Linked DNA regions of Homo sapiens. The protein of the gene in region 1 purifies or fractionates together with the protein of each later gene. This does not show direct contact. Each region holds a gene or a part of one and is shown in the gene's direction. Other genes may lie near its edges. The genes, in order: GOLPH3, GMPPA, RCC1L, VBP1, TIPRL, TSPAN2 and TENM3.

Region 1 (2,552 bases):
GAGAAAAACATGGCAGATTTTCTTCTGTTTTTCTTGGGGCAAAATCAGATTTTACTGTTTAATAGTACAAAATTTTTGCAAAATTAGCAGATAATACTCATCATTTCTAACTTCTGAAATCTTTTGTTTAGGTGAGACATGGAATCCATTAAAATTGCATTATCAGTTAAGAAATGTACGGGAACGATTAGCTAAAAACCTGGTGGAAAAGGGTGTATTGACAACAGAGAAACAGAACTTCCTACTTTTTGACATGACAACACATCCCCTCACCAATAACAACATTAAGCAGCGCCTCATCAAGAAAGTACAGGAAGCCGTTCTTGACAAATGGGTGAATGACCCTCACCGCATGGACAGGCGCTTGCTGGCCCTCATTTACCTGGCTCATGCCTCGGACGTCCTGGAGAATGCTTTTGCTCCTCTTCTGGACGAGCAGTATGATTTGGCTACCAAGAGAGTGCGGCAGCTTCTCGACTTAGACCCTGAAGTGGAATGTCTGAAGGCCAACACCAATGAGGTTCTGTGGGCGGTGGTGGCGGCGTTCACCAAGTAACTCTGCTCGGGGTGAACCATTCTCCTTTCTCTCAAGTAAACCAGTAGTTTTTCTTCTGTTGACTTCTGGTTTTCTGTAATTTGTACTTTCCCACACTATAATTGGCTTCTGTTTTACAAAATGGTGGGTGGCTTTTTCTTTTTTGTACGTGTACAGGATTCTGCTGGTACGAGAGGCCTTCCTCTTTCTGTTTTTAAAAAAAGTTTTACTGCCATATTGGCATTCCATTCCCTGTTGCCATCCTCACTGTTACCTGTTTTGGGTTTCTGGTCTACTTTGACTTTCAAAGTACCTCCAGCCTCCTCATACGCACAGCTTTTGGATGACCTCAGCTTGAGTTTCTCCATATGTGCATGTACATCTAGCATTCTGCCTACAGTTCAGACAGAAGTCACAAAAAGGCCTTCAACTCACCAAAGGTAAATATCTGTATCTATTAGGACATTTTTTACATAGACTTCAGTTGAGATGTATACTTAGCAAAATTATTTTTAAATTGAAACAGCACAGTAAATACTTAATATAAAATGTCCCTTGGATTTTGCTTCCCATGTAAATCTATTGTATTATTACACTTGTTATAATTTTAACTATAAAGGTCCAATTGTTTCACAGAGCCAGTTTGGGATGGGCTGCATTCCATTTATGCTGTATATAGTTTGAATTATATATAAATTACCCCTTCTTCTGGCCACCCCTGCTCCCATCTTAGTATTTTGCAAGATCTAATCAGTTGTACACCTGGTGCCCCTCGCTTGCTTCAATCATGGTTATTTGATGGCAAAATCGACCTCTTGTCGCTGAAGGAGAGAGAAAAGATGTGTGTCTGATTGGTCCTGGGATTTTTTGAGCTGTGCCATTTATGGTACTCTTTGCCTATGCATCCCCTTGTTAGATTTTTTTTAAATTTTATCTTACTGTTTTTATAATTTCTATTGGGAAGAGGCTTGTGACCAGTACCAATCTTGAGTTTCTTTTTCTGTCCACAAGTAAATTAATATCTGCTCTGAAATGTCATTTATCTACTCACACATTCTTGGGGAAAAAAATCAAATGTCAGTCCTAGCAGATGTTGCATGTAAATTGGTAGCAAGTAATGATTACAACCCAGAGGATTAAGAATTTTGTAACAGAAAGCTCTATGTTTTAATTTTTTATATACAATTAGGATAATTAGCATTGTCAGACTATAAACCTTTGCTTTTTAAAGTTTATTTTTACTATTTCTTTATCACTTTATTGTATCATCACCATTGGTTTCATAATGTAAATACTATATGTTGAACAAATTAAATGTCAAAATTTTTTATTACCATAGTCCATGTTAATAGTGGGGCTTTCAGGTGTTTAGAGATTTTTTTTGTTGTTGTTAACATTCATTGCAAAAGTACTAGATGGTGTATAACTCTAGAGTTGAATTTTAAGGGATTCCCTAATATGTATACTATCTTTTTATCTGAAGTAATAAATAAACAATGATCTTGAAAGTGCCTGAATCAGAGCAAGCATGTCATTTGTGTTTTTGTATTCTCATTTAGTTTTCTTTCAAATGAAATGTTACTTACTGTAGCATTGTAATATTTTAATGCAGGGCTTGGGTTTCTTAAAGGGCCAGATAGTAGATATTTTAGGCTTTGTGAGCCGCCAGCTGTGTCAGTTGCAACTACTGAACTTTACTGAATGAAAACTGTTATAGATAATACAAATAAATAGGTTAGACTGTGTTCCAATAAAACTTTATTTGCAAAAACGGGGCTGGTCAAGGCCCCAGTTTTAATGCATGGAAAAAAGACAGATTTTTCTATCCATTGGAGTAACCTTCTTTACCTTCAAAAATGATACTGCTGGTGGTAACTACATGTAGGAACTATTAAAGTGTCTTCCCATAAAGTAGATATTGGGAAACTGATACCAGTATACTGGAATTTCTTATCGAGTGAAAAGTTCCTGTTTTTCACTTGAGAAGATGTTAGAGGTGAGGTAATAGATTTCTGAG
Region 2 (4,092 bases), on another chromosome or scaffold:
TCAACGTCACACTGCGAGTTTAAATGCATCTGTATTTAGTGCCGGGTATTAGCCGGTGAGGTGATGCCCTGCCTCATCTCCGGGTCCTTCACGGGGTTTCGCTCCCCTTTCCTTCCGCTAGTCCCGACGAAGATTCAAAAGGGACCCGACAACACTAAGGCGCGCAAAGGCACCACCGTGACGCTGACTGCGGAGATCCTGGGAGAGCCTGCGCCCGACGTAGGCTGGACCAAGGACGGGGAGGACATCGAGGAGGATGACAGGCGAGGGCCGGGACCTGCGGCACGGCCAGGGCCTGGGGCTGGAACCTGGGTGGGACTGAGCCCAGAAATCTGGCTGGAGTGACGGGGGCGGGGACTGGGCAGCGAGGAACAGAGCTGGCTAAGGAGCCCCGCCCAGTGCGCCCGTGTACTGACCACGGCTCCGCCCTCCTCCCCGCCGCCCTTCCGCAGGGTGTTCTTCGAGATCGGCAGCACCACCACGACGCTGACCATTCGCCGGGCCACGCCTCAGGACAGCGGCAAGTACGAGGTGTACGTGGAGAACAGCCTGGGCATGGACCAGAGCTTCGCTCGCGTCGACGTGGCCTGAACGGCACCCCCGGACCTTCCGCCCTGGCGCCGAGCCCGGGGGTGGTGGGACCCACAGCCCTCCACCAGCTTGCTTAATAAAGCTGCTCTCTGACCCTCCGCGTCTGTCCTGCTCTTCCGCGTCGCCATTCCCTCTCCCCCGCACCAGCGCCCACACGTATTCCAGACCCCCACGCCAAGGTCACAGCCTGTTGGAGTCACAGGGAGGTCTGGAGAGCGCCTAGCGCCGTGCTGCATTTCAGACAGTCAAACTGATAAGAGTTGCCCTCGCCGTCCAAGGCGCCCTCACTTCCCAGCGGTACCGCCGGCTGGGCCTGGGACTCCGCCTTCTCCGCTTTTGAGCGCCTCCAGCCCCAGCCCCTTGTGGCTGTTTGCCCCTGGCCCCGCCCCTTCCAGGGCTGGCCACACACCCCTGCTGTCCTTAGTCCCGTTTTCCTGTGGGACCCAGTTCCTCACTTCGGCTGCTGCCCCGAGGCCGATTCCCCAACAGCTCGGGTCCCAGTCTTAAGTTCCAGGCTGGGCTTCTCAGGCCCCACCCTTCTTCGCATTTAACCCCGCCCCGCGATCCCTTGGTCACACCCCTGGACTTCAGCACCTCTTTCCTCTCCCATAAAGTTAGAAAGCGGGTAAAGGGTCAGACTACAATTCCCGGCAGACCCTGCGAATGAGTTCTCGCGACTTGCGAGAAGACACGTGCGCGGAAGGAGCTTGCAGTAGCGGGCGGCAGAGCTGGAGTGAAGGGAGCTAGTGGTAAAGGGAGCTGGTGGAGGGGTGGCGGCAGGGGTAAGGGGCAGGGGACACCCTCTAGACGGAGAGCGGGCTCCGAGGTCCTGGCTGGCCCTCGGTGCGCCCGCCCCTGTGTTGGTCCCACAATCCCTGGCAATGAGAGGCCAGGGTTTATTGGACAGAGTCAGTTGTGGGGTTCAGAGGGTCAGCAATCAATCAATCCTCCGAATCCAGAGATTTAGACCCAGTCGTCCGTATTAGGACTGGAGGGGGGTCAATAGGTTCAGTGTTTGAGATGCCAAGGGAACCTGTCTTTTGATTTGGGGTTCAACATACAGAGGTTAGTTTTAGGATTCATGTTTAGCATATAGAGGATTTTTGCTGGGATTAGGGGTTCTTCAAATTCAGATCAGTGTTAGTTCAGTACTTGGGGATTACGTTCAGGATTTAAGTTAAATATCTGAGGCTCACTCAGGGTTTGCTGTCCAATATTCAGGGTTCACTATTGGGGTTCAGGGCTTAATATCTAGAATGAAGACGCAACACTTTGGGAATTTGAGGCTTCAGTATTTTGAGGTTTGGGTCTGAGAAGGGAGTCTCTGCCAGGTTTCTGAATTTGCAGAATTTGTTCATGGCCAGAGGGAAGTCTTTTAGAGATCAAATTGTGGGGTGTGAATTTCAGAATTTGGGAGGAATCACTGTGAGGTTTGAAGGCCGACTGGAATCTGGGTTGGGATTTGAGATGTGTGGGATTTGTGAGGTTCTGTCCAGGCAGGGACTATATTGAGCTTTGGGTTTACATCTTGGGGGAGGGCTAAGTGCTGCTATTTGGGGTTTGGGGTTTGGTTGGGGTGTGAGATCTGAGCTTGATTTCTCTGCTGGGATTTGAGATGTGTGGGATTTGTGAGGTGTTGGGTCCAGGCAGAGACTATATTGAGCTTTGGGTTTACATCTTGGGAGAGGGCTAAGTGTTGCTATTTGGGTTTTGGGGCTTGGTTGGGGTAGGAGATCTGAGCTTGATTTCTCTGTTGGAATTTGAAGTTTAGGTAGCAGTCACCATTATGCTCAAAGCGGTGATCCTGATTGGAGGCCCTCAAAAGGGTGAGGTGCCAGGGGAATGGGGGGAGGAGGTTGGGCTGGAGTGGTAGGCGGGATGGGGGCAGAGGAAGGCAGGAGGCCGAAATGTTCTCCTCTCTCCTCTCCCAGGAACTCGCTTCAGACCTTTGTCTTTTGAGGTGCCCAAACCATTGTTTCCTGTGGCAGGGGTCCCTATGATCCAACACCATATTGAAGCCTGTGCCCAGGTAACCTCAGGGGCTCCCCTCTCTCACCTCACTTCCTGCTTATCTTCATGCTGTTTCCCCCTTTCCCAACCATGAACTCTTCCCACCAGGCATAACTCCAAGGACCATCATTCACAGATGACAATGTGAATGGCGCCCCCTCAAGTTATGCTGTGCAGCTGCCCTGCTGTCTTCCCCTAATCTAGTTTCTCATCTGGCCTCTTCCTGCTCAGATTTCACTCCTATTTTTAAAGTGTGGAATGTGAGATCAGGCAAGGATCTTGGAGACAATGTAAAGCCGTAGCATGGAGACTCTTAATGATAACCAAGCACAAATTCATATCCTTGATCACATTGTTGCTCATTTCTTTATTGCTTTTCGTATTGAGCCAGGCAAGGTTTTGGTTTGAATTCAGTCTCTGCCTGCTGTGAGGTCTGCAACAAATAACACACCCTCTCTGACACTCAGTTTCCTTATGTGTAAAATGGGGGTGATTAGACCTACCTTGTTGGGTGGTGAAGCTTAGAAATGATATTTGTAAAATGCCTAGTACAACGCAGACCCTTGATAAATGGTACCCTTACCTCATGCTGATCTCAAGCTTAGGCTGACAGATAATAAAAATGGCCGGGGGGGAGGGGGCGGGGTGGAAATGGATTAATGCAGCTTGGTAGGCAAAGTCTTTCTTAGAGTGAGTCCCAGTTCAGGTTGGTGGGGGTAATAATTGATTGAAAGATCAGGCCTGGCATGGTAGCTCATGTCTGTAATCCCAACGCTTTTTGAGGCCGAGTCAGGAGGATCGCTTGAGGCCAGGAGTTCTAGCCTAGCTTTGGCAACATCAAGAGACCCCTTCTCTACAAAAAGTTTAAAAATTAGCTAGATGTGATGGCCTGGCTGTAGTCCTAGCTGCTCTAGAGGCTGAGGCAGGTGGTGACATGGCTGTAGTCTTCAATACTCAGGAGGCTGAGGTGGGAGGATCGCTTGAGCCCAGGACGTGGAGGCTGCAGTGAGCCAAAATCATGCCACTGCACTCCAGCCTGGGCAACAGAGCGAGACCCTTTTTCACAAAAATAAAACAAAACGAAAAAAGATCAGGCCTCCGACTTCCTCCAAATTCCTCATTGTCCAGAGGAGAAAATAGCCCAGAGTGGTGAGTGCCCTGGGGCCCCACAGCTGAGACTGAAACTGGTTTCTGGACTTTGGGCCAGCACCAAGGATTTCCCCAACATCCCCTCCTATTAGATATTCTTCATCCCAGCCTCTTCCCTTGTCCTCAGGTCCCTGGAATGCAGGAGATTCTGCTCATTGGCTTCTACCAACCTGATGAGCCCCTCACCCAGTTCCTAGAAGCCGCCCAGCAGGAGTTTAACCTTCCAGTCAGGTGTTTGTGCACACACTCGTATATGGGGGGGTGGGGATGCCCTAGGCCTCTGAGTTCTTGGAAGTGGGTTGAGTCAGCATTTGCTGGAGTTCATCCTCGCCTACTAGAAGG
Region 3 (3,500 bases), on another chromosome or scaffold:
GATTACAGGCGTCCGCCACCGCACTTGGCTAATTTTTTGTATTTTTAGTAGAGATGGGGTTTCTTCATGTTGGCCAGGCTGGTTTCAAACTCCTGACCTCAAGTGATCCGCCCACCTCGGCCTCTAAAAGTGCTGGAATTACAGGCGTGACCCACCGCGCCCGGTGAGTTCTTTTCATTTTAGTGTTTAAAAACACTTCCCTCTAGTTCCTTGTATGTTGTTGGAGGGCCTTAACACCACTCTCAACTTTGGCCATGTGTTAAAATCACCTAGGATTTTGTTTGGCTTTACTTTCATGACCAGGCCTGACTCGACCTAAGATTTGACCTTGAGAGTTACCCCAACAGTTACTGTGTGAGCGGAGGGGACGGGCCATCAGTTGGGGTGACAGGGAAAGGGCTGCACAGTGCTTGTCATGACCGCATCCCTTGCTTCTTCCCAATTTGTTCCTGGCTGTAGTGAAAGTCACAGAGTCCACAGGATGCAGGACTTCGATGGCCAGGTGGTCCAGGTAAGAGAGATGGGCCGAGAGCTGCTTGTTGTGTTCCTGGGGTGCTTTTGAAAAGTTGAGATTTGGGTAGGGTGATGGCAAATTTGTTAGGGGGATTTTCTGAATTAAATTATTTTAGTAAAAATTGTAGCCTACTTACTATAGGCCAGGATTTATGCTAGATTCTAGGGATACAAAGTTTAATAAGATTTTGGGGCCGGGTGTGGTGGCTATACCTGTAATGCCAGCACTTTGGGAGGCCGAGACAGGTGGATCACCTGAAGTCAGGAGTTCCAGACCACCCTGGCCAACATGGTGAAACCCCGTCTTTACTAAAAATACAAAAATTAGCCGGGTGTGGTGGCACATGCCTGTAATCCCAGCTACTCAGGAGGCTGAGGCACAGGAATTGCTTGAACCTGGGAGGTGGAGGCTGCAATGAGCTGAGAGATTGCACCACTGCACTCCAGCCTGGATGACAGAGCAAGACTCTGTCTCAAAAAAAAACAGATTTTTGGGGATGACACTCTAGTGAGTGAACAAGTTAAAAAGCTAACTGAGGCCGGATGTGGTGGCTCACACCTGTAACGTCAGCCTCTGGGGAGGCTGAGGCAAAAGTATCACAGCACTTGCTGTATTCATGCATATGTGCATTGAAATATTTATGATAGGTACCTACCATGAGCCAGGCACTATTCTGGGGATGAGAATAAAATGGAGAGCAAAATACAGCTGGCTTAGAACACCACAGCACTAATCATACTGTGATACGGCTGGCTTTTTGGTTTTATTTGGAAATTTTTTAGAGGCAGGGTCTCATTCTGTTGCCTAGGCTGGAATGCAGTGGCACGATCATAGCTCACTGCAGCCTTGAACTCTTGGGCTCAAGTGATCTTGCCTCAGCCCCCTGTGTAGCTGGGTCTACAGGTGTGCATCACCATCCTCGGCTAATTATTTTAAAGAGACAGATTCTCACTGTGCTGGCCAGGCTGGTCTCAAACTCTTGGCCTCAAGCCATCCTCCCGCCTTGGCTGCCCAAACTGTTGGGATTATGGGTTAAGCCACCATGTCAGGCCTCCTTCACCTATTAGACTGAGTGACTTTGTGCAAGTTACCAGACATCTCCAAGATAGTTTCTTTTTCTTTTTTTTTATTTTAGTGCAGTGGCACAATCTCAGCTCAGAGCAACCTCTGCCTCCTGGGTTCAAGCGATTCTCGTGCCTCAGACTCCCGAGTTGCTGGGATTACAGGCATGTGCCACCATACCTGGCTAATTTTTGTATTTTTAGTAGAGATGGGGTTTCACCATGTTGGCCAGGCTGGTCTTGAACTCCTGACCTCAAGTGATCCACCTGCCTTGGCCTCTCAACGTGTTGGGATTACAGGAGTGAGTCACTGTGCCCAGCTGAGATTCAGTTTCTTACTAGGTGGTTTTGGTTATTGACTTAACACAATGCCTGGTGTAAAAATTGTTCAATAGATGGTGCTTTTCTTTAGGCAGTTAGAAAAATGAGTTTGGAACTGAGGAGAGTTGTTGAGACCAGAGATCACAGTGCAGAGGCCACAGTTAAGCATTGAGAATGGCTCCCATCTCCCAGGGTAGCATGAGGAGTGAGGAGAGAGGAGGGCAGGAGACACACCCTGGAGAGAGATCCCAACAGCAAAGGGTCTGAAGTAGAGGCTGAGTGTGTGAGCAAGGCTGGAAGCTGTGAAAGTAGAAGAGAGGGCTGGGAGGAGAAGGGTTATGGAGAAGGGGTGGTTCTTTGGAGATGGCGTGGGATGGATGGCAGAGCTCTTGGATTTGCCCCTTTGGAGATCTGCATTTTACTTTAACAAGAGCAGTTTCAATGCAGTGGGAGACTGGTAGATTGAGAAGGAGTAAGATGAGCATGGAGCAGTCTGCCTGGACCATGCTCCAGGTGCCCAGGAGCGGCAGGCGATGGTGCTGGTCCTTCTTTGGATGAGGACACCAGGGTTCTAAGTATTTCCTCTCATCCCCCTTACCTCTGTTTGTCTGCTAGGTCGCCTGTGGTCAGGATCATAGTCTGTTCCTGACGGATAAAGGAGAAGTCTATTCTTGTGGATGGGGTGCTGATGGGCAAACAGGTAGAGTTCTTTTCATGCACTGGGGTCGTGAAACTTCTCAGCCCGTGTCATGTGGAGCTGTGAGCTGTAGGGCATTTATGGGCTAGAACCCTTCTTCCTTAATTCAGCTCTTACCTCTTATCACTTTCTGAGGAACACTATTCTTGGCTCCATCGCCCAAGCTGGAGTGCAGTGGCGCGATCACATCTCACTGCAGTCTCAAACTCCCAGGCTCAGGTGATCCTCCCACCACAGTCTCCAGAGTAGCTGGGACAACAGGTGTGAGCCACCAAGCCCAGCTAATTTTTTGTAACAACAGGGTTTCGCCATGTTGCCCAGGCTGGTCTTGAACTCCTGACCTTAAGCAGTCTGCCTGCTGTGGCCTCTTGGTGGGCTGGGATTCCAGGCAGGAGCCACTGTGCCCTGCTGTAATACTTTTTTTTTGCATCCCTTCCATTCCCCTCAGCCCTGGCTCCCATAGAAATGAACTGAGAGAAGGCTGGGTGCAGTGGCTCACACCTGTAATCCCAGCACTTTGGGAGGCCGAGGTGGGCGGATCACTTGAGGTCAGGAGTTTGAGACCAGCTTGGCCACCATGGCGAAACCCCATCTCTACTAAAAATACAAAAATTAGCTGGGTGTGGTGGCACACGGCTGTAATCCCAGCTACTAGGAAGGCTGAGGCAGGAGAATGGCTTGAACCCGGGAGGCGGAGGTTGCTGTGAGCCAAGATCGCGCCATTGCACTCCAGCCTGGACAACAGAGCAAGACTCTGTCTCAAAAACAAACAAACACAAACTGCAGAGAAAAGGACAGGCAGGACCTGCCCAAAGGCAAATGTCATTATTGGCACTTGGTATGGGGGTAACCCCTGGCCAGCAGCCCAAGGCAGAGCACTGAACTGTAGACTCTTGCCTTCATCCAG
Region 4 (3,441 bases), on another chromosome or scaffold:
CATGAAAATCAATTTTAGAAAAGAGTGGCAGTGCCTTTCTCTGGTAGAACTGTACATGTAAAACAGCTGAATGATAATTCATAGCAAACTATAAGTAAGTTAACATATGCAACACCAAGGCAATTTAAACTTTGGGAAAGATAGATGTAGGCTGGACTTAGTTCAAAGAAGGCTTTGTTGAGAAGATAAAAGTTAGGCTGCTTTTTTAAAGGCGGCGTAGGGTTTAAAGATCAGCAGAGAGAAGAGGTGGGAGTGGGGTATTCTGGTCAAGGGGGAAGGCAAGCTCTTTGCCTTTCTTCTCTGGCCTGTCTTTTCCTCCTACTTCCTGTCACAGTCACTCAAGACAAAATCACGGGAGTCACCTTTCACACTTCTCTCTTCCTCACTACCAATAATAAATCAGTCGCCAGATTCACATCAAATTTCCCTCATAAATCTCTCTGCCCATTACTGTTCTCGTTCTGGGGCTCCAAAACCTGCACTCAGAACCTTTTTAGGTTCCTCTCATTCCATCTGTCCTTCCCACTATCTCTAGTATGAATTTACTAGGTCACTCATTTTTATTCCTCTGGTTACAATATTTCAACGGTTCCTTGTTACTTACAAGATATACATATAGGCACTCTTGTGAAGTGCCCCCAGCTTGTCTCACCTCATGCCACTGACCTCTTCTTGCCTTTCCCCAGTGCATTCCAGGTTCCAGATAACCCCAGTCAGTTATTGTACACACTCCCCAATTGTGCCACACCCTTTGCATTTCTACACTTTGTTCCTCCTAACTGGAATGACTTTCCCATATTTACAGGATGTGCTCTTTTTTTACCCTTTTACCCTAAATATCTCAGTCCAAGCATCAGAGCTTTCCTGAACATTTTCTGATCCTCAGAGTGTTTCTTGTGTGCTTGCTTAACACATACTGCTTAGTTTTACCTTGCCAAACCGTGAGCTCTTCAGATGTAGGAGCTGCACTTTCTCTTCTTTTCCAGTGTGCAGCATGTGGCAGTTGTTTATGGTTGGCTGAGGGAAGGCAGGCCTGTTGGGGCCTAGTGCAGTGGTCATCATCATCTGACGGGTAGTGTGGAAACTTCATCCAGCTATGAGATGACGAGGGCCTAGGACGGGTGGCTTGTGGAAAGGAAAAGATATTAAACGTGTGAGAAAAAAACAGGATCCAGTGACTTAGATGGGTACAGGAGCCAAAAGTGAGGAAATCCTCTAAGATGAGTCCTACAAGCTTAGTTAAATGCCATTTGTTATTGCTAGTACTGCAAAAGGTAGGAAAGGAAGGTGTGCAGACAAGTGAGGGAGCTAGGGTGGACAGTCTCTGTTACATTGACATTCTACTGGAGTCTAAGCTCCACGAGGAAAAGAACTTCACCTGTCTTATTCAGGTCAGGGCTTTGTACAGTGCCTAGTCAAAAATACAGTAGATGCTTAATAAACTTGTTAAGCCAAAGGGAGGGTAAGAGATAAAATTATTGATAATTGTAATAATATAAATATTACATGGCAGGATATGGGTTGAGTGATCTTTCAGATTTCTTGGATGAGGGACTGTCTTTAAAACTATCGAGAGTGTCTAGTACATATTTGTTAAATATATCATAGTTGACTAGCTGACAGTTGACTAATACCATAGTAAACAATGGGTTAACAATTAATTTGAGTCCTTAGTTTTGATAGAGTTTAATTATAGTATTTTCCTAACAATTGACATTATAGCAGGATGTCTTACAATACTATTTGTTACCAGTATTTGTATATGTTTCATTTCTGTGTCTTTGATTCATTGTGTGAGTGGAGTGAATACTTAGTCATTGCATGCATTATCTTTAGAATTGCATTTGCATTTTCTTTGACAATTCTTGCAGATATGGCCAGGGTTTATAATTGGGATGTAAAAAGAAGAAACAAGGATGACTCTACCAAGAACAAAGCATAATGCTGGCAATTAAAAATGTGGTTTAGTTTTCCAAACATGTTATCTTAAATACCCCTTTATCCTTACAGGTTGACATAACTTTGAATGTTTTAACAGCAAGAATTTTAAGAAAAGATAAACACCATTTTATTTATTTATAAAAACAAAATTAGTTTCAAATATTTTTGACATTGTGATTTTTTTTTCCACATTTCTCAGCAAAGCTAATGGTATTTTAATCATTATTTTTGCCTGTCATAAGAAAACTCTTAGCTGAAATGGCCGAAAACTGTGAGACATGCTATGGAAGCTGAATGCCGGACGCTAGCACAGTTTACTTTTTCCCTTTCTAATTGGCTGATGTTACTCTCACTTGATGTGGTTAAACCATTTTAGAGGTAGAGAAGACAGACAGTTTGAATATTTGTAAACTTGTTTTTCTTTGGTATATTTAGGACTTAGTGGTCCTCTGTTGCTATTGTCTTCTATAAGTGGAGTTTCATGACTTACTGCTTAACGAATAACTAACTACTATGATATTCTGGACATTTTAGGAAATGGTAATTTGCCTTGCTACACATTAAGAGGGCTATTAAGACTACATTTTTTCTAACCTCAGATAAGTGCAGTGTCTTTGCAATGCCAACATAAGGGAGATCTTGGCCAACGTGAAATAAAATTACTCATTCAAAACTCTGCCTAAGGTGATTTTGTAGTTCTTAACAGTTCTCCAGAGCATCTTGAACAGGAATATTAAGATAAATGTGAATCTGCAATGGCTGAAAAGAGTTGTGAGCTTTTTTATTCATGATAAAACCTTATAGGAATAGTATAAAAAATCCCTGTGGAAAGCTACTAGTACATTGACCAGCGCTGGGTGATACAGATTCTGATAAAAACATAAATGTATTAGTTCATCTCCATGTAGTAAAAAGTATACTTATACAATGTTTTGTACTTGTATTTCATGAAATTAAAACAGTGATGCTAAAACTATGGCAGAGCACTTTTTTCATGTTACTCTTTGTCTTACTATGTTTGGGCTGCTATAACAGAATACCACAGAGTGGGGGGCTTATAAACAGCAGAAATTTATCTCTCCCAGTTCTGGAGGCTGGGAAGTCCAAGATCAAGGTGCTGGCAGATTTGGTGTCTGGTAAGGGCTGTGTCCTGGTTCGTAAACGGCACCTTTTCACTGTGCCCTCATGTGGCAGAAGGGGCAAGGAGCTCCCTTGGGCCTCTTTAATTTGGCACTAATCTCATCATGAGGGCTCTGCCCTTATGACCTACTCACCTCCCAAAAGCCCCACCTCCTAATACCATCACCTTGGGGGTTAAGATTTTAACATAACAATTTTGGGGTGACACAAAGATTCAGACAATAACACCTTTTTAAAGTTAACATGGGTCTTTTCACGTATTTGTAAAGTTTACTTGTACATATACTAGCATGTTCCAAGAACAACTTATATTTCTAGAAACACCATAAAATCCCTGTGGAAGGAATACAGATCTGCAAA
Region 5 (3,500 bases), on another chromosome or scaffold:
GCTGAGGCACGAGAATCACTTGAACTTGGGAGGTAGAGGTTGCAGTACGCTGAGATCGTGCCACTGTGCTCCAGCCTGGATGACAGAGTAAGACTCCGTCCCCCACCCTCCGCCAAAAAAAAAAAAATGCCTTTTTTTATATGACAAAAGGAAGACTTACCCTCACCAATCCCAAATTTTTCTGTGATGCATTATCATAGATTGTAAAAACCACTAAGGTGCTAAATAAATTGGTTGGGTAAAATATTGGATTAAAGAAGCTCTTCTAATGAATATTTAAGGCACCTTAAAACCACAGGAGCTTCCTGTCTTCTCTCCTTGTAACTAGTTATACCTGTTTTTAAGTGGGAAGCTTGATGATGTTAGAAATAGGGCATTTTCAGGCCGGGCGCGGTGACTCACGCCTGTAATCCCAGCATTTTGGGAGACCGAGGCAGGTGGATCACCTGAGGTCAGGAGTTCGAGACCAGCCTGGCCAACATGGTGAAACCCTGTTTCTACTAAAAATACAAAAATTAGCCGGGCATGGTGGCACGTGCCTGTAATCCCAGCTCCTAGGAAGGCTGAAACAGGAGGATTGCTTGAATCTGGGAGGCGGAAGTTGCAGTGAGCCAAGATCGTGCCATTGCACTCCAACCTGGGCAACAGAGCGAGACTCCGTCTCAAAAAAAAAAGAGGGCATTTTGGCCTATGTTTAAGAAACTCTATATTTAGAACACTGAAGGACTGTAAATTAGTAACAGTGATTCTTTTACATATATGAGTGGAATATTTTATAGGACTGCCACATTTTTCCAGATATATTGGTTAGAATCCACAGACTCACATATTATTTCACATTTGGTATGCATTATTCAAGTTAAAACTTATTTTATGGAATCTTATGGAATATATATTCCAATTACAGTTTATTGTATCTAATCTTTTAAGTATTTAATATTTTCTATCTCCTAATAACAAAGAATAAATTTTACTTAAAATTATGATGAAAGTTAACATTGTTAGTCCTGAAGACCATTGTTAACATTGTGCAGTCCTGAAGACCTGCACCTCAAAGTTAGATCACTGATATGTGCACACAGAAATACACGTTTAGATGTAATAAATATACAATGTGTGTCCAGTTTTTTTCTTACTATTTTATCATAAGCATTTTTTCATATTATTATAGTCTCTCTTTAAACATTTGTAATGGTTCCATAATATTTCATCATATGGATATACTTTGGTTTGCATAATCATTTGTTGCTTTATAATGAAACATTCAGAGTATTTCTTTTTCATGATTATAAGTAAAGCCATTATAAGTATTAATGTGTATAATATTTTTCTGTACTTGGAATTATTCTTTAGTACAGGTATTCTAAAACTGATACTTTGGGTCATAAGTGTGTAAATTATGTTAAATTCCTGTGATTTTTTTTTTTTTTTGCTTGATTGTTGCCCCAGGGTGAAATGTAAATTGACACAATCCTTCTGAAAGTCTGTGTAGGCAAGTGCTGAGTTCCCTCATCAGTGTCAGGTGCTTTTGCTTTTTTCATCACCACGTTTTGAAACTTTTAACAATTGAGAATTTTAATGGAAAAATTATTTTCCTACAAGAGACAGTATCTTTAATTGCTTTGCTATCTTTTCTTCATACCCTCATGATATATATTATAGTAATATCTGTGTGCTATATATTATAGTAGTATAATAAGCTATTATATTACGTATTTGTATATTTATCTTATTTAGCCCACTACTTAGTACAGTGCCATATGATGATGAAAGAATGGATGATGAAAGCATTTTATAGACCTTGCAAATATATCATATTGATTAAATCATGTGCTGTGTAACTCATTCAGCAAGTAGGAAGAATTCTGTTGGGATGGAAAAGAAACAAAAATGCCAACAGCGATATAAAATTATCTCACCCGACTTTTGGTTACGTATAGATTAGCCGATGAATTACATATGCCATCTCTCCCTGAAATGATGTTTGGAGACAACGTTTTAAGAATCCAGCATGGGTCTGGCTTTGGAATTGAGTTCAATGCTACAGATGCGTTAAGATGTGTAAACAACTACCAAGGAATGCTTAAAGTGGCCTGTGCTGAAGAGTGGCAAGAAAGCAGGTGAGAATCCGGTCAATTAGGTTAAACAAAAAAGGTAATTAGGTTAAACAAAAGAGAAAAGACTTGAAAAAATATTCAGTAATGATACGTGTGTGTTGTTAGAATGAAGGGCTGGTATTATTAAACTTGAGAGTTGTATCATTCTAGAATTCGTTTTTCTCAGACATAAAAATGGAAGTTAATTACCCCACTGCTTGAATACTTGTTAAAGTGAATTACAACTGAGCTGAGCTATGTACGTTTTCGATTTTTCAGTGTTCCTTACTGAAGAGGCAGTAGGCTATACTTAATGTTCCTGTTTTTAAGAAAAAATGTTTACTTATGATATGCTTAATAAATACCCTATTTGAGAAGCATTGAAATTAAGACAACATGTTTTTCTTTGATAGTCAAATCAGCAATTATTTACTTTGTGCCTAATATGTACTAAGTACCTTAGATGATACAAATAAGTATAAACCTTTAAACCATGTCCTCAGGCTGTATACAGACTAATTGAAAAGACTACATCAGTACATGACAAGTTAAATAATAAATGCAGAAAAACTGTAAGAAAAACCTTGTACTGGTGAATTATAACAAGTGTATATATTTAATAGGATATGTTATTATAGAATATAATTTGATGTGATATATAAATACAGATAATCTCTATTCTGCATCACTGAATCTGATCCTTCTCATTTTGGTATTTGAGGACGGAGGGTGAACACTCCAAAGAGGTTATTAAACCATATGATTGGACCTATACAACAGATTATAAGGGAACCTTACTTGGAGAATCTCTTAAGTTAAAGGTAAATCTTACTTTTTTCTTTCATGAGTCATTGATTGTCTTGGACAGTCTGAGCATTAGAACTTTCTAGTAACGGGTTATTTTTTGCAACTATTTTTATCGTCCTTGTTTTCTGTTGTGGCATTCCTCAGAACCTAATGTGAGGGGGTTTTGCTTGTTGACTTATCAGTAGAAAATAAAAGACGGCATTAGTGGAAAAATTTATTTTTAAAAGTGTAGTTGGTGGCAACGGCAGACGGCCTTGTTGTTATCATTATCACTATCAAGAAACATTAAAATGTGTTTCGGGCCTTGGTAATGTATTACATGATTTAGACAGAACCTGCTAGCTTGTAGCTCACAAGTTTATAGATGAACAAATATATGAGCAAAAAGAACTTCTGGTTAGACAAAGTAGGTTTATGCCCTGTCTGCCCTGAGTATGAACCTGAAATGACTTTAGGAAGTTACTTAATTTGAGTCTCAGTTTTATCAATAAATTGGGTAAACAGAAATATCTACCTCAAAGCAGAGTTTTGATGTGAAATAATTTATGGGAAGCTCTCAATAAATTCTAAAGCTCTATATTAGTATTAAGTCCTGTG
Region 6 (3,500 bases), on another chromosome or scaffold:
ATTTATTTATTTATTTTGAGACAGAGTCTCACTCTGTTGCCCAGGCTGGAGTGTAGTGGCATGATCTCGGCTCACTGCAACCTCCACCTCCCAGGTTCAAGTGATCCTCCTGCCTCAGCCCCGCTAGTAGCTGGGATTACAGGTAGGTGCCACCATGCCCGGCTAATTTTTTTATTTTCAGTAGAGACGGGGTTTCACCATGTTGGCCAGGCTGGTCTCGATCTCCTGACCTTAGGTGATCCACGCATCTCGGCCTCCCAAGTGCTGGGATTACAGGCTTGAGCCACCGCGCCCAGCCATGAGGTTAACTTTCAACAGAGAAGGGCACCTCTTTGGCTCTGATCAGAGAAAAAGGAGTCAGGAGTGTGCTTGCTACCTACAGCAATGCCTGGCACTGAAGGAAGGGAGCATCTAAGTGTATAGGAGAAGGAGAGGAAGAGTGAAAGAATTGCTATAGGTTGACTCTCATTTTTTCCACTAAGTAAGGGAGCCACTCCTTAGAAGAGTAGTTTTCAAACTTTTGTCAGAATGCATTATAGGTATCTCTTGTGGATCTGTGTCCTCTAAACTGTGAATTCCCAGAAAGCAGGAGAAACCATATCCTATTGTCTCTGCATCTACCACCCCTCTTCCAGTGACTAATGCAAGGTAGATGCTCAAGAAATGTTTGTTGAATGAATGAAGTGTGATAGGAAATACGAAGAGAGAAGTAAGGGTTTTATATAGCTCAGATGGTATCAAAGGAACCAACCAGTGACAAGTGAACAGATCTGAACAACCTGAGGGTACAGTTGGATTGAGAGCATCCCTCTACTTAAGAGCACTCCAAATAGGAGTGTTTGAAGTTGGAGAAACTAATAATAGTTACAGGTGATCTATTTGGCTTTCTGTCTAAGTTTCCCCACATCCATGAAGGCCCTTTGAATCTATGCTGCACAGGTGTCTTATGGGCACAGATGAAAGGATAGGAACTCACCCAGCACAGCCCAGCCCAGCCACCACAGGAGAGAATGGTCCTCTAGCTCCAAGACTTGGCTTTTCTAATTCTTGGCTTTCCTTTGTTTAACTTGAACCTGTTAAGACTTTTTAGTTTCTTAATAGGTCATGCCTACTTTGCATAGTAAATTGGGTCAAAGACATAGAAAGTATTTTAAACTGTAAATGACAATATGAAAACAAAGAGTTATTGTTTTAAGGGTATTTTACTTATTTGCTACAAGTAAGAAGTGGCTCCAAATTTTTAGATTCCTTGGAACCAGACAAATAGCTTCCTCCAGTTATATTTCAGGGCTCCGAAGAAGCCACTGGCCTAAACATGAAAATCTCACCCAAAGGAGAGGCTTCTATTTTTTTCCCCAAACTGCATTTTTGCATTAAGCTTATTAGGATGATGTTATCAAAGATGAATTGTTGAAACATGAGTAGAAGCTGGCATGGATTAACTCTCACAGAATGAACTGTAGAGATGGAAAGGATAGGATCAGGATAATGACTGACACATACAATCAGTTTTTATTCCCGACTTTTTTTCCTCAAAACAGAATTGCATCGATGAAATTGAGACCATAATCAGTGTTAAGCTCCAGCTCATTGGAATTGTCGGTATTGGAATTGCAGGTCTGACGGTGAGAAAGTTCTAGAACTTACCCTTTTTGCCCTCTAAAAAGCCTTGAAACTTTGCATCTTATTTCTTTTCAAGTGTGATAGTATCTTAAGAGAGAATTCTCATAAAGAAAAAAGACCTTTGTTCACAATGTATTACATCTTCTAAGAACAAAGCTCATAAATATATTAATAGTTTGTCCTCTAAAATATAATAGAAATTTCAACTTTAACTCATTATGACCTTGAGTGTGTCATTGTTATTAACTTCCCGTTTTAAGGCTACTATCCATAACCTAGATAAATGATTTTCAGTTCTGGGTCTCTTTCTACTGTTACAAATTCAATGCAACATATCAGGTTAATCTCTCTCACCTACGATTTGAAGAGGCAGCAGAGCATAGAGATTAATAGGGCGAGCTCTGGCATCACATGGTTTGGATTTAACTCTAGGCTCCACCATTTGCAAGCTCTGAGATCGCAGGAAAATTTCTTAATTTTTCTATACCTCAATTTCCTCGTCTGTTAATATATAAACCTTATAGGATTGCCGTGAAAATTAAATGGGATACTACATATACAGTAGTATTACAAATTAATATAAATAAAGTGTCTGGGACATATAACACTCAACAAATGCCAGCTCTCTGCATAATCTACCAGGCAAAGGCAATGGCATAGATGGTATTAAGCGTAGTGCATCCAGACCACCACCAGGTGGCTCTGTACTTCTAAAGTACAAAAGAAGAGTGTGTGGGAAGAATGGATAGCAGCGGACAGGTATGGCAGGAGTTGCGAGAGGTGGTAATGGAGAGAGTATTCGATCTACATCATTGAGATCTTTGTATGCCCCTTTGAAAGGGTGGGCTTCACCCTTAAGGAAAGGGGAGTCACCAAGAGTTGGAAGAACCTGTGGTAGAGGATAGAGGAAAGGTTGGAGGGAGGCAAGATTGGATTTGGAAGGCGGGTTAAAGGATGATTTCCATTGTCCAGGGGTTGGATGATAATAGCTAATGCTAAGATGGCACTTAGTCTCTAGCCCTCTATGTAGATTAATTCATGGCCTAAACTAAGGCAAGGGCTGTGGGAATTGTGAGGAAATCAGTGAATTTGCAGTTATCAGGGGACACACAAGCGCCTTCCCCTTTTCTGTATTTAGAGCACAGAGGGGTGGAGAAGTGGCTGGAAATACTCTGCTGAGGCCCTCCAAATCAAGGGACATTTCTCAGGTCCTCCCCACCTGCTCTGGGGATAGCCTGGCTGCAGTTCTGCAGCTCCCCAAAGGACAGTCCTGAGGCAGGTCTGAGCGTGTGCTGCATAATGGAGAGTTTCACAATCTCAGCAAATGAGCAGCCTAGAAGCATTCACCCCTGACTCGTGTCGGCAGTAGGCTGAGACTGAAGGAGTCTCACTGAAACCAGGATGGGTAGGGATTACATCCAACCTTATGGCAATGATAAAGGGGAAATGCCCATAGTGAGCCTATCTTGAGTCGGCACCCCCAGGTTTCTTCGTTAGTTCTTTTCTCTGTAAAGTGAGAGTTGCACAATGTAATCAGCTAACTAAAAGTGCATTGGGTGTCGCCCGTGCTACACACTGGTACTGAGTCCTGTCATCCAGAAGCTTGAAATCCTGTTCCTGGCCATGCCCTTACCTGCTTCTGCCCCTCCCTTTTCAAAACAACTGATCATTCATATCTTATTGAATTTAGCACTTACAGATCCTAGTCTGACTTAGGATGGAATTGAGGAGAGAACCAGAAAGTTATAGTACCCATTTTTTAAAATAAGCATTGACAGTAGTTTATGGAATGGTGCCCACAGATAGGGTTCCATGGGCTCTACAAAATTGTAGGGGAAATAATAGCGGACAAGAAGACTCTTTGGCATTCTTCTATT
Region 7 (3,500 bases), on another chromosome or scaffold:
GAAATCTCTAATCTTTTGATTGCATGAGCTCCTTAAGTAGTAGAGAGAACCCACTATGATTAGTGCCAAGGGACTTATATTTAGAAATAGAAACTTTACTGTTGGCCTGATTGAAAACACAATAGAATACTAATCTATTCATAACCTAGAAAGCCCCAACATTTGGTGGTTATTGCTGCCATAAGGAACATGTGTGTTCATAGCTCATCGATATCTGTTGACTCACTACGTAGAGGCCTATTTGCTATTTGCCTGTAACTAGCAAATCTTTCTGTGAGCTGAATTTTAAAATAAAGTGTTATTTCCTGTATCTATCTTCATTCATTACTTTTTGGTTTATTTTACTGAGGCTATTGAAAAAACTATTATCAGACAGTTTATCTCAGATTAATGCCAATTTCCCTGAATGGTCTAATTTACTCTTCTGGCGAATTAACTGTAGTGCAGTAACTTACTAACCAGGCCATTTCTTTTTTTATTAAGGTACGTCTGGAATGGCCCACTGACCTAGCCATTAACCCTATGGATAACTCCATTTATGTCCTGGATAATAATGTAGTTTTACAGATCACTGAAAATCGTCAAGTTCGCATTGCTGCTGGACGGCCCATGCACTGTCAGGTTCCCGGAGTGGAATATCCTGTGGGGAAGCACGCGGTGCAGACAACACTGGAATCAGCCACTGCCATTGCTGTGTCCTACAGTGGGGTCCTGTACATTACTGAAACTGATGAGAAGAAAATTAACCGGATAAGGCAGGTCACAACAGATGGAGAAATCTCCTTAGTGGCCGGAATACCTTCAGAGTGTGACTGCAAAAATGATGCCAACTGTGACTGTTACCAGAGTGGAGATGGCTACGCCAAGGATGCCAAACTCAGTGCCCCATCCTCCCTGGCTGCTTCTCCAGATGGTACACTGTATATTGCAGATCTAGGGAATATCCGGATCCGGGCTGTGTCAAAGAATAAGCCTTTACTTAACTCTATGAACTTCTATGAAGTTGCGTCTCCAACTGATCAAGAACTCTACATCTTTGACATCAATGGTACTCACCAATATACTGTAAGTTTAGTCACTGGTGATTACCTTTACAATTTTAGCTACAGCAATGACAATGATATTACTGCTGTGACAGACAGCAATGGCAACACCCTTAGAATTAGACGGGACCCAAATCGCATGCCAGTTCGAGTGGTGTCTCCTGATAACCAAGTGATATGGTTGACAATAGGAACAAATGGATGTTTGAAAAGCATGACTGCTCAAGGACTGGAATTAGTTTTGTTTACTTACCATGGCAATAGTGGCCTTTTAGCCACTAAAAGTGATGAAACTGGATGGACAACGTTTTTTGAGTAAGTATATGAAAATTCTACTCTGATTATAAAATACTGTGATATAATAATATCATCTATAATAACAATATAATCTTAAGAGCTGGAGGATTCCATGTTTTTGAGAGTCTAGAGCTTCTGTAATTTTTGGATCCCGGCTGGGCACGGTGGCTCATTCCCGTAGTCTCAGCTCCTGGGGAGGCTGAGACGGGAGGATTGCTTGAGCCCAGGACTTCGAGGCCACAGTGAGCTATGATTGTGCCACTGCACTCCAGGCTGAGTGACAGAGCCAGAACGTATCTCTAAAGAAAAAAAAATGGCCGGGCGCAGTGGCTCACGCCTGTAATCCCAGCACTTTGGGAGGCCGAGGCGGGCGGATCACGAGGTCAGAAGATCGAGACCATCCTGGATAACACGGTGAAACCCCCGTCTCTACTAAAAATACAAAAAAAATAGCCGGGCGTGGTGGCGGGCGCCTGTAGTCCCAGCTACTCGGGAGGCTGAGGCAGGAGAATGGCGTGAACCCGGGAGGCGCAGCTTGCAGTGAGCCGAGATCGCGCCACTGCACTCCAGTCTCTGGGCGACAGAGCGAGACTCCGCCTCAAAAAAAAAAAGATACCTCTTTCTGAGAAAGAAGACAAAATTGCAAGATACAAGATGTAGGGCCTTGGAAAGGGAAGGGACTCGTGTAAGGGAGAAGCCCAAAGCTTAAGTTTCAGTTGGCTTCATGGTAAATTTACCTGTACTTAAGGATTAACATCTTGCTTCCAATAGACCTAGCATCTTAGCAAACCTTCTGAGAAGCATCCCGCAGCTGTGGTTTGGGGCATAAAGCCTTTGGCTCTAGGTTTGCCCACCTGATAAAGCTGACTGTCTCAGGAACTTGCATTGAAGAAAAACTTCAAAAACATTTACAGTGAACTTTGCTGATTACGTAGAAGGGCTTAAGTTTTTGTAATCGTTACCAGAGAAGCTACACTGTGCCTCAAAGAACCTTACAACTAAATGCAAGTCAGGAATTGCAGTTTGTTGCCTGAAAGCATGTGAAGAGGTAGGAGGCTCATTCAGCCAGGGTGTTCCAAGAGATAGCATGGAGTGGTGGCCCGGGCACTGTGCTGTCTGAACAGTCACATCTTGGGAGTCACTGAGAATGAAAGGAGAATCAGCTGTTGAGTATGTTAGGGCATGTATAAATGCATTCTCAATTGCTTGTTCACTTGACTCGGTTGTACAAGCCATGAGGGGAAATGAGATATGCAGAGATGGCATGTTGACAAACGCAAAATAGTCTTTGAAATGAATCCTGAGTTCCTTAGTGTGGTTTTCACAATGATACGGTGAAGCAAAGGTACTTCTTTCTGTAGGAGCACACCTCTGAAATTATCATAAAAGTCAGTAGAAAAAATGACTCAATATACAAATATTTTCTGTATAGCTTTTCTGGAATGTGTCTTATACATAAAGCTTAGTTCTCCTGTAGCTTGAATTGCTTTTCTTTTTTGACAGATTCCCTTTTAATAAAATGAATGTTAGCCAGCAGCATGATTTTGTCAGAGGAACAAACCTTTTCAATTGAATTACATTAAAATTCTGTTCTTAGCATTCCTTTTGCTCATTTTAGTATCGCAATAGGAAAGGAATAAATTGGAAGTTAATGGAAAGCACTTCCTTTGCACTGTTTTCAAAGTGATCGCAGGCTAGATTGCCAACGAAGCAAAAAAGAGCACAAGAAAAGTGCTGCCATCAGATGAGACTGGGCAGGAGAGCTGCTCTGATTCTAAGATCTTCAGGAGGCCGGGCGCGGTGGCTCACACCTGTAATCCCAGCACTTTGGGAGGCCGAGGCAGGCGGATCACGAGGTCAGGAGATCAAGACCATCCTGGCTAACACGGTGAAACCCTGTCTCTACTAAAAATACAAAAAATTCGCCAGGCGTGGTGGCAGGTGCCTATAGTGCCAGCTAGTTGGGAGGCTGAGGCAGAAGAATGGCATGAACCCGGGAGGTGGAGGTTGCAGTGAGCTGAGATGGTGCCACTGCACTCCAGCCTGGGTGACAGAGTGAGACTCCGTCTCAAAAAAAAAAAAAAAAAAAAAAAAAAGATCTTCAGGAGATGGTGGCGGCATTGGTAGGGTTTCAGTTTAGTTGAAAGTGGGGGAAACATA

Evidence for each region.
Region 2: the proteins of GOLPH3 (region 1) and GMPPA purify together in Homo sapiens (affinity purification with mass spectrometry; 4 studies listed by BioGRID and IntAct, with this or other methods). This does not show direct contact.
Region 3: the proteins of GOLPH3 (region 1) and RCC1L purify together in Homo sapiens (affinity purification with mass spectrometry; 4 studies listed by BioGRID and IntAct, with this or other methods). This does not show direct contact.
Region 4: the proteins of GOLPH3 (region 1) and VBP1 fractionate together in Homo sapiens (co-fractionation; one large-scale study listed by BioGRID). This does not show direct contact.
Region 5: the proteins of GOLPH3 (region 1) and TIPRL fractionate together in Homo sapiens (co-fractionation; one large-scale study listed by BioGRID). This does not show direct contact.
Region 6: the proteins of GOLPH3 (region 1) and TSPAN2 purify together in Homo sapiens (co-immunoprecipitation; one large-scale study listed by IntAct). This does not show direct contact.
Region 7: the proteins of GOLPH3 (region 1) and TENM3 purify together in Homo sapiens (co-immunoprecipitation; one large-scale study listed by IntAct). This does not show direct contact.

The regions. Positions count from the first base shown.
Region 1 is NC_000005.10:32,124,216-32,126,767, reverse strand, and holds the end of GOLPH3 (Golgi phosphoprotein 3), read left to right. Parts: intron 1-131; coding exon 132-556; 3' UTR 557-2,052; downstream 2,053-2,552. UniProt on the Homo sapiens protein: Phosphatidylinositol-4-phosphate-binding protein that links Golgi membranes to the cytoskeleton and may participate in the tensile force required for vesicle budding from the Golgi.
Region 2 is NC_000002.12:219,497,599-219,501,690, forward strand, and holds the start of GMPPA (mannose-1-phosphate guanylyltransferase regulatory subunit alpha), read left to right. Parts: upstream 1-1,292; 5' UTR 1,293-1,340; exon of another isoform or gene 1,341-1,656; intron 1,657-2,357; 5' UTR 2,358-2,377; coding exon 2,378-2,417; intron 2,418-2,522; coding exon 2,523-2,620; intron 2,621-3,877; coding exon 3,878-3,981; intron 3,982-4,092. Other genes in the region: SPEGNB (SPEG neighbor protein), read left to right, coding at 122-263, 453-591. UniProt on the Homo sapiens protein: Regulatory subunit of the GMPPA-GMPPB mannose-1-phosphate guanylyltransferase complex; reduces the catalytic activity of GMPPB when part of the complex. Mediates allosteric feedback inhibition of GMPPB catalytic activity upon binding GDP-alpha-D-mannose.
Region 3 is NC_000007.14:75,060,303-75,063,802, reverse strand, and holds part of RCC1L (RCC1-like G exchanging factor-like protein), read left to right. Parts: intron 1-459; coding exon 460-511; intron 512-2,511; coding exon 2,512-2,596; intron 2,597-3,500. UniProt on the Homo sapiens protein: Guanine nucleotide exchange factor (GEF) for mitochondrial dynamin-related GTPase OPA1. Activates OPA1, by exchanging bound GDP for free GTP, and drives OPA1 and MFN1-dependent mitochondrial fusion. Plays an essential role in mitochondrial ribosome biogenesis.
Region 4 is NC_000023.11:155,236,901-155,240,341, forward strand, and holds the end of VBP1 (prefoldin subunit 3), read left to right. Parts: intron 1-1,871; coding exon 1,872-1,942; 3' UTR 1,943-2,941; downstream 2,942-3,441. UniProt on the Homo sapiens protein: Binds specifically to cytosolic chaperonin (c-CPN) and transfers target proteins to it. Binds to nascent polypeptide chain and promotes folding in an environment in which there are many competing pathways for nonnative proteins.
Region 5 is NC_000001.11:168,181,962-168,185,461, forward strand, and holds part of TIPRL (TIP41-like protein), read left to right. Parts: intron 1-1,940; coding exon 1,941-2,120; intron 2,121-2,817; coding exon 2,818-2,917; intron 2,918-3,500. UniProt on the Homo sapiens protein: May be a allosteric regulator of serine/threonine-protein phosphatase 2A (PP2A). Isoform 1 inhibits catalytic activity of the PP2A(D) core complex in vitro. The PP2A(C):TIPRL complex does not show phosphatase activity.
Region 6 is NC_000001.11:115,051,504-115,055,003, reverse strand, and holds part of TSPAN2 (tetraspanin-2), read left to right. Parts: intron 1-1,541; coding exon 1,542-1,625; intron 1,626-3,500. UniProt on the Homo sapiens protein: May play a role in signalling in oligodendrocytes in the early stages of their terminal differentiation into myelin-forming glia and may also function in stabilizing the mature sheath.
Region 7 is NC_000004.12:182,753,902-182,757,401, forward strand, and holds part of TENM3 (teneurin-3), read left to right. Parts: intron 1-483; coding exon 484-1,358; intron 1,359-3,500.